Regions from separate parts of the Homo sapiens genome. Here region 2 is linked to region 1. A link means that fine-mapping ties the variant in region 1 to the expression of a gene that starts in the linked region. Tissue or cell type: whole blood. Region 1 holds a variant in brackets; the other region holds the start of a gene. Each region is shown on its reference strand, or each on the opposite one. Region 1 overlaps RREB1 (ras responsive element binding protein 1). Region 2 holds the start of AGAP2 (ArfGAP with GTPase domain, ankyrin repeat and PH domain 2).

Region 1 (4,374 bases):
CTACATAAAAATACTTATACTAAAAATTATTTGTTGTCTATCTGAAATTCAAGTTTAACTGGTGTTCTGTATTTTATTCACCAATCCAGTACCATTTGGTTTTAGGCCCTATCTATTTATTAATATTTTGGTTGTAAACTCCAAAAAGATAGGATCTCACTAATTTGCGCTTAGTTCAATAACACAAATCACTGAATACTGAGACTGTTCACTGAGAAAATTTAGAAAATTATAATTCAGATGAGAGTTGTATGGCCATTTATATACTAGAAGCACCTGATAACAAAATTATTTAAAGTATATTCCTATCCTAAACTTCTCTTTAAAAATCAGCTTCTAGAAACTAACATTTGAAAAATATTTTTGGGCAGGCCAGGTGCAGTGACTCACGCCTGTAATCCCAGCACTTTGAGAGGCCAAGGTGGGCAGATCACCTGAGGTCAGGAGTTTGAGACCAGTCTGGCCAACATGGTGAAACCCCATCTCTACTAAAAATACAAAAATTAGCTGGGCATGGTGGCGCATGCCTGTAATCTCAGCTACTTGGGAGGCTGAGGCAGGGAGAATTGCTTGAACCAGGGAGGCAGAGGTTGCAGTGAGCTGAGATCATACTACTCCACTCCAGCCTGGGTAACAGAGCGAGACTCCGTCTCAAAAAAAGAAAAATACTTTTGGGGCCAGGTGTGGGGGCTCATGCCTGTGATCCCAGCACTTTGGGAGGAAGAGGCAAGAAAACTGCTTGAGCCCAGAAGTTTGAGAGCAATATAGTGAGACTCTTTTATTTAAAAAAAAAAAAAAAAAAGAAAAAGAAAAAAGGAAGATACTTTTGGGGTATCACTTTGACAATTTAAGTTTGTTACTTAGAATTTTTTCACACTTGGGTGTGAGTTCTTGGGGATGGACAGGTTGATGGGCTCCATGGAGCAGTCGTAGGGGGCTAAGGAAGAAGGGCTCAGGAAGGAGTTGTTTTCCTGCTTCACCTGGACCAGCGCCAGGCCCTTCTGAGAGAAGTTTCTCAGAAAGGCTTACAATTGTAGTATAAACAGAAATTTTAAAACATTCTACCACCACTCATTGCTGATTTTCACAATCAACAGGGGAAGATGTGACTGCCTTAGTGAACTGAAAGAAAACAGCCAACCTCACAATTTGTCATATTTCTCTTTAAGAAGACATGGCATCCAAAAAAACTTCACAAAATTGTCAAAATTTAAAAAGCTGCATTGAGGACACTGGAATGGAATGTCAAAGCACCGAGCTCATTATGCCCCAATACCTTAATACAAAGTCTCACGTCTGTGGAGCCGCCTCCCTGTTTAACCCAGCAGATAATCTGGCTACCACCTCCGGAAGGGATGAGGCGACGCCATGAGTGATCTGAGGGCCTGTGACCACTTTCACCTCAAAACGCCCCGGATGAACACTTAGTAGAATGCTGCCCTTGGAGGGCTCGGCCCCTGCACAAAGGCCATGTGGGTACTGAGAGCACATAGGAAATACAGCACCACCAGACAAGCTCGGGGCTTCGGAGACCGGGGAAGAAGCCAAGCTAGGAATAACTGGAACTGTGGGAGATGGGTCTCGCTTTTGACCCCCACTCGTGGCTCCCCCTACCAGGAAGTAGGACTCACTGCCTGGGAGCCCGGTGGCCCTCTTACCAGTGTGTGTGAGCATGTGCCTCTGTAGGGAGCTGGCCCAAGGGAAAACCCGGGGACAGTGGGGACAGGTGATCTTCTGCAGGCAGTTGGTGTACGAGTTCCGCTTGGCCCTCAGCAGCTTGTCTTCTGGGGGACTGCCCTGCTCTTCATCACTGGGCCCATGGTGGTCGGCAGGGGCTCCGGCCACCTCATCCTGAGTGTTGTCCTCCGCTGTCTGCAGAAACGGACTGAACTTGTTGGTGTCTGTGGTGGCCAGCATCTTCTCGATGCTGGCAAACTCCCCGCTGGAGTCCAGGT[C/T]CACCCCGCCGCTGTTGGCGCGGGGTCGGCTCCTCATCCCCCTTTTCCGGCCCCTCTTCTTCGACGTGCCCGCTGGGCCCTGCTCGGTGGGAGAGGCAGCCTCTGGGCTGCTGGCTGGAGCGGGAGGCTCACTAGACTCTTTTGGGCTGGTGGTGGCAGCGGGGGTGGCGGTGGTGGCGGCTTTGGGGACAGAACCTCCTAAGCTGTCTGAAGCCGTGGTGTTACTGCCAGTGCTTGCGGGCCCTGGGTCCGCCACCTTGGTTTTCAGCAGGGTGGGGGCCGAGGATACAGATGAGATGATCTGGGCAATGGAGGCCAGCGGGGGCAGCTCTTCTGTCACGGGGGGCTTTGGCAAAAGCAGCGGGGGCTTGGGCCGCAGTGGACGCAGCAAGGCTGTGCCACTCAGGAGGGCTGAGCTGCCCACGAGTGGAGGGCTGCTGACCAGGGCTGAGGAGTAGATTGGGACCGCCAGCTGAACAGGGCCCTGCAGGGGCTGTGCTGGGGGTTCCGGGGTGGCCGCCGGAGCAGGGGCCATGGGGCTTTCCAGGATTCCGCTGGGCCCCAAAGTTACAGGAAGAGAAGGGCCGGGTGCTGGGCAGGGAGAGGGCTGCTCGCTGCTCCCCGCCTCCTCCTCAGGCTTCTTGGCTTCGCTGGGAGTGGCCAAATCCTTGTCCCCTTTCCTGAAGTTCTTGGGGATGGACAGGTCGATGGGCTCCATGGAGCAGTCATAGGGGACCAGGGAAGAAGGGCTCAGAAAGGAGATGTTTTCCTGCTTCACTTGGACCAGGGCCAGGCCCTTCTGCGAGAAGTCCAGGGGCTCATTGAAGTCCACCGCAAAGCTACTGGCGGGCTCCAACTTGATCGAGACATGGGGAGGTGGAGGCTGGGTGGGGCCCCTGTGAAGAAAGCCGTTCTGGGGTTCCAGGAAGGCAGTGAGGGGCTTGCAGTCACCAAGGGCAGCGCAGCCACTGTCCTCCCCGCGCCCCGACGCCTCAGCGGCCGGCGCCTCTGCGGGGCCCAGGCCGTCGGCGGCCAGCACGTAGCTCTCGATGTCCTGCTCGGGCACGTGCAGGTGCTGCTTGAGGATGTGGTGGATGCAGTTGCGCTTGGCCGCGAACGCGGCGCTGCACTCCTTGCACTCGAAGGGCTTGCGGCCCTTGTGGCCCCCGCCCAGGCCGCGGCCGCAGTGCGTGCGCATGTGGATGCGCAGGGCACGATAGTGCTTGAGGTCCTCGCCGCACAGCCGGCACACGGTGTCCGGGGCGCAGAAGGCGTCCACCAGCTCGGCCGCGCTGCTACTCACATACTCGATGTTCTTCTCGATATCCTTGCGGGTGGCCTTGAGGTGCTTCTTGCGCAGGTGCCGCTCGCAGTTGGCTTTGACAGTGAAGGGGTAGTGGCAGATCTTGCAAATGTAGGGCCGCTCCCCACTGTGCGTGCGCAGGTGGCGGATGAGCGCGGCCTTGTCGGCGGCGATGTAGTCGCAGATGTTGCACTGGTATGGCGAGATGCCCAGGTGGGAGCGCACGTGGGCACGCAAGACCCCCGAGAAGGCAAACACCTGGTTGCAGAAGCGGCAGGGGTAGAGCACCTTGCGCATGGCGGGCGTCTTCTTGCCGCCGGGCGCTGTCATGAAGGCCTTGAGTTCCCCCTCTGTGATCTCCTGCTTGATCTTGGCCTCCATGCTCAGCGGCAGCAGGGCCTCGATGATGCTGTCCTGCTCCAGCTGCGTCTTCATCTCAGGCTGGCCCGGCAGCTCCGCCCGCGGCTGCTGCAGGGAGAGCCGCGTGGCCGCGTGGGGCTGGGTCCCGGACTTGGACTGCAGCAGGTGGGCGTTGGAGGCCGCCTCCACTGAGCCTTTGAGGAGCTTCAGGGGCGGTGGCGGCAGGCTGGGGCTGATACAGCCCGGGGAAGCCTGCTGGGCGTTGATGAGAGGCGGGGGCGTGGAGGTGGCCACCACCGTCCGTGGTGTGACCAGGGGCTTTGGCTTCAGAGGGGGCATGTGCTTGAAGATCGCCTGCAGTGGGGCGGCAGGGGCCTTGGAGAAGGGCGGAAGACTGATCTGAGGGGGAGCCGAGGCTGCCATCTTCAGAATTTGCTGGATGTCTGCCAGCTCGATGGCCGACTCGCCAGAGATGGGCTTGACCACAATGCTGCTGTCAGGCTGGATGATGAAGCCCTTCTGGAAGGGCTGCAGGGACAGGTGCTTTATGCTGTCCTTGGTCGCGGGGAGAACTGTGAGAGAACCGCCTAGGGAAGCAGCTTCGAAAGGTGACAGGCTCAGCAGGTTGGTGCAGCCGGGGTCCTGAGGTAGCTGACACTTGAGTGTCTGGAGCTGAATTGCCTGGTTGTCATCCGGCAGGGGCTCCTCGGCGGGGGCAGGCCTGACGTCTTTGGTGTGCTGCAGGCCAAGCAAGGC
Region 2 (4,374 bases), not on the chromosome of region 1:
CTCTCACACACTATGCTCTGCAGAGCCAAAGTGCAGATAGGTCCCCAGAACTCTTCTTGGTCCCCTCTCCTCCCCTTGCTCCTGTTCCTGTCTTCCCCCCACACACCTTCCGCTCTACCTCCTTAGTGCCATTAGAGCAAGTGATGACAACACAGGGAGGAAATGCTGCCATGGCAACACCATCCGCCACATCCTCCTGCCCACCCCAGGCTTCAGTCCTGTGGTGGAGCCCTGGCAGGAACAGCTTCTCTCCATCCACAAGGCCCTACCACTGAGGAACTGGTGGAACTGGAGGTTGTTCCAGCTCGCTGTCATTCCATTCACCTCTGATGCAGCAAAGAGCTAACAAAAGCAGCCTTCTTTGCTCATGAAAGGTGTCTGGTGGAAACACTTCTTCCATCATATCCTGATCTCTTCCAGCCATTTCAGTCTTCTCCATTGTTACCTGCCTACCTGGGTGGTTGTCAAGAGATCATTCTTTCCCTCAAGGACACCTCCTGCCAGACCTCTCTGCTAGTACACCAGAGTATAACTTGGGGAAGGAACAGCTTGCTTTGGATGCCTAGTGGGACAGTCTGATGATCCCCTTCCCATTGTTCTTCGGAGGCTAGTGCCCCTCTCACCTCCTGTCCCATACCCTTTGCCAGGAACTACACCTGAAGCTTCCCCTGACAGCCTTAGTGTTTGGAAAGGCAGACCAAGGGGGAGTGGGCCATGGGGCCTCCTAGGGAGAAACTCTAAGCCCCACCCCTCTCAAAAATAATAATGATAATAATAATAAAGGAGAAGAGCGGTTTAGGCCAGGCAGAAAAGCTGTGCTTAGCTCTGGAGAGGGAGGAGGGTGAGGAGGGGTGGAGGTGGAAATCCCTGAGAAGGCTTCACTCCTCATAAGTGATTTGTTTTACTCCTTCTCTAAGAATTAGTATTCTGTTCCCATTGAACATAAAGGAAAACCGAGGCCATCAAAGGAGGGAAGTTTAAGCCAGAGCCAACAATTCTCCTTCACCCTCTCCATCAAAAAACACTACTGAAGGGTCTCCTGTCCTGGGGATGGTGTCATCTTGGTTCTGTAGGGAGGGAGGGAGAAACTGCTGAGCCCCAGGACAGAACATTGGAGGGATTGGATACAGGCCTCTGGGAGAACAAAGGGCTCCTGGCATCCTGGCTCAGCCCCCCCACCCTCAGCCCCCCACCAGGCCAAGCACGCTGCGGGCTCCTGCCTCCAAGAGCCGCCCACGGCAGCACTTATTATAGTCTCAGCTGCGTCAGGAGGGTGGGACGCCAAATCAGGGGACTGCTGTGACTCCCCAAGTCCCGGGAAGGGGTCTCCAAGGCTGCAGAGAGACCTTCCTTCGCCCATCTTACCCCACCCCCAAGGGGTCTCAACCTCTTTTCCACTTTGGCCTAACCACTTCAGGATTCTCACCTGGCTGGAGGATAGAGAGCCTTGAACTCCAAGACCCCTAGAGGGGTGGGGGACACGGAGCAGACGGTTTCCATTCACTCTGCCTGCCTCCTCTTTAATCTTCTGAAAGAATCCCACTCAGCAAACCTCAGGAGACTGAAAGGGAACCCTGAAGAGGCCGGCTCTCACTGCCTCAACTGAAGGGTCCTTATACTTGGGGAGTGAAATCCTCCACCTGTGGGTAGCCAGGTGTCAGGGCAGTGCCTCCACTAATTCAGCATCCCGCGGTTGGTCCCCTACCCACCATACACACGGATTCCTCTCTGCTTCTGCCCGCTGTTTCTGAGGCACTCTTGGAGCTACGGTTGCTATGGAGACTGGATGCATTTTGGCATGGGGGGGTATCAGTCTAAGACACATCCTTCTCCCTCCTCCTAGAGCTGGAGCCTTTGACTTACCCTGTGGCCTGGGCTCCTCCAGCACTCAGATCTCTCCCTTCTCTCCTACCCTGCTAAGTTCCATGTTTGTCCCCATCCCTGGGGAACATTTTCCAAGTTCACTTTGGGACAGTCGAGCTCAAGTCTTGGCCCCGTCAAAGTATTAAATGTGGTGGTGTGAGTGGGAAAGGGAGCTGGGTCATGAGAACGGGAACCGTCCAGGTACCTGGGGGAGACAAGAGATCCTGGGGGAAGGGATTTCAGGGCCCCCACTTTCCCACTTCATCTTCCCCAGAATTGGCAGTGACCCTGGGTTTGCTCTGTTTACCGCGGCCCCTGTCCACCCAATAGATCGATTTTCACCCTTATCCCTAAATGCCATACCTCACAATCGCGCTTCCTAACCTTGGTGCGCGAGAGGAGGGGGCTAGGTTGTTGGAGGAGGTGAGTCCAAGTCCCAGGAAATCCAGCCCAGGATTTGGGAGAGAAATCCAGCCCTGGATTTTGCACCGCCCTCGCAGACATCGGTGCTGGTGGAGAAAAGGTGGGGGGGAGATAGGGTGGGGGGGCCTGGGGGCCGCCTCCTCCTCAATGTGAGGGGAGCGCCCGGACACAGCGCGCATCCGGACCAAGCCGAGCCCAGGCGAGGCCCCCGGACTCTTCGCCCGGATCTCACGCCCCTCCCCTCCCAGACCCCAGACCCGTGGGTTCCCACCCACCTCCCGTTCCCTCTTTCCTCCCCCGCCGCCTCCTGTATCTCCATCCCCAGCATCCTCCCCGCGCCCCTGCGAATCCCCCGCACGGCCAGCCCCACTAGCTTCCCACCCTCCTCTAGACCCTCTTTCCGACCGCATCCGCGGCCCCTGTCCCTTGAGTCCCAATTCCCCGCCCCTGCCTCCCCCGCACAGGTTCGTTTCCCCTAGCCTCCGGTCCCCTTTTCTGCTCCCTTTTCCTCTCTCTCCCCCATTTGCCCCCACTACTGTCCTCCCCGCCCTCCCCCACCCATCTCAGCGCCCCCACCCAGGCCGGGGTGGACGGTCCGGCGCGCCTCCCTGGAGCAGCACCAAGGTCCCGGGGCTCCAAGAGGGTGGGGGCGCAGGGCGGGGAGCATGGGGAGGGGGCGCCCCATGTGATGGGAGGGGGGCGCAAGCGGAGGCGGCGGAGGCGGCGGCGACAGCGGAGCCGGGCCGGGGGCTCAGCGGGGTCCGGGGGCTGGGGGCAGCGAGCAGGGCGGCCCCATGGCCGGGCCCCCCTGAGGCAGTCCGGGGGAGTCCCCTCCCCTCCCCAGCTCGGGGGTCTCCGGGCCCCATGAGCCGGGGCGCGGGCGCGCTTCAGCGCCGGACAACGACCTACCTCATCTCGCTGACCCTGGTTAAGCTCGAGTCGGTGCCTCCGCCGCCGCCTTCTCCGTCTGCGGCCGCGGCCGGCGCCGCCGGTGCCAGAGGCTCCGAGACTGGGGATCCTGGCAGCCCCCGAGGCGCGGAGGAGCCGGGCAAGAAGCGGCACGAACGTCTCTTCCACCGGCAGGATGCGCTGTGGATCAGCACGAGCAGCGCGGGCACCGGGGGCGCGGAGCCCCCAGCCCTGTCCCCGGCTCCGGCCAGTCCGGCCCGCCCAGTCTCCCCCGCTCCCGGCCGCCGCCTCTCCCTCTGGGCCGTCCCTCCGGGACCCCCGCTCTCCGGGGGACTGAGCCCCGACCCCAAGCCTGGGGGCGCCCCCACCTCCTCCCGGCGCCCCCTGCTCAGCAGCCCGAGCTGGGGCGGCCCGGAGCCCGAAGGCCGGGCGGGCGGCGGCATCCCTGGCTCATCCTCTCCGCACCCTGGCACCGGCAGCCGGAGGCTCAAGGTGGCGCCTCCTCCGCCGGCTCCCAAGCCTTGCAAGACCGTGACCACGAGTGGAGCCAAAGCCGGCGGGGGCAAGGGCGCGGGTAGCCGCCTGTCATGGCCCGAAAGCGAGGGCAAGCCCAGGGTCAAGGGGTCAAAGAGCAGCGCCGGGACTGGAGCTTCGGTCTCTGCCGCCGCCACCGCCGCCGCCGCCGGGGGAGGGGGCTCTACAGCTTCGACCTCTGGTGGGGTCGGGGCTGGGGCTGGAGCCCGAGGGAAGTTGTCCCCTCGGAAAGGCAAGAGTAAGACCTTGGACAACAGTGACTTGCATCCGGGACCGCCTGCCGGCTCTCCTCCTCCGCTAACCCTCCCACCAACTCCGAGTCCAGCCACTGCTGTCACCGCTGCTTCCGCGCAGCCCCCCGGGCCTGCACCTCCAATCACTCTGGAGCCTCCAGCTCCGGGGCTGAAACGGGGCCGGGAGGGGGGCCGAGCATCCACTCGTGACCGCAAGATGCTCAAGTTTATCAGCGGCATCTTCACCAAGAGCACAGGAGGGCCTCCTGGCTCCGGGCCCCTTCCCGGACCCCCCAGCCTGTCTTCTGGCAGCGGGTCCAGGGAGCTGCTGGGCGCCGAGCTCCGCGCTTCCCCTAGTGAGTTGAGTCAGGGCTTGAGAACAGGGAGGGAAGGGTACCTGGAATGCTCAGCT

What was found.
Region 2: it holds the start of AGAP2, and the variant in region 1 is fine-mapped to the expression of AGAP2 in whole blood (TOPMed, PIP above 0.99).

Annotation. Positions count from the first base shown.
Region 1 is chr6:7,229,192-7,233,565 of GRCh38, reverse strand. It overlaps RREB1 (ras responsive element binding protein 1), which reads right to left. Exons shown (of 13, transcript NM_001003699.4): 10 at 1,659-4,374. Among named protein-coding and RNA genes, the nearest start is that of SSR1, 82 kb to the left of the region's middle. The variant C/T (reference allele first, on the strand shown) is at 1,956.
Region 2 is chr12:57,737,023-57,741,396 of GRCh38, reverse strand. AGAP2 (ArfGAP with GTPase domain, ankyrin repeat and PH domain 2) reads left to right here and starts at 2,655. Exons shown (of 19, transcript NM_001122772.3): 1 at 2,655-4,318. The coding sequence starts at 3,151. RefSeq lists an enhancer at 30-109 and a silencer at 3,283-3,502.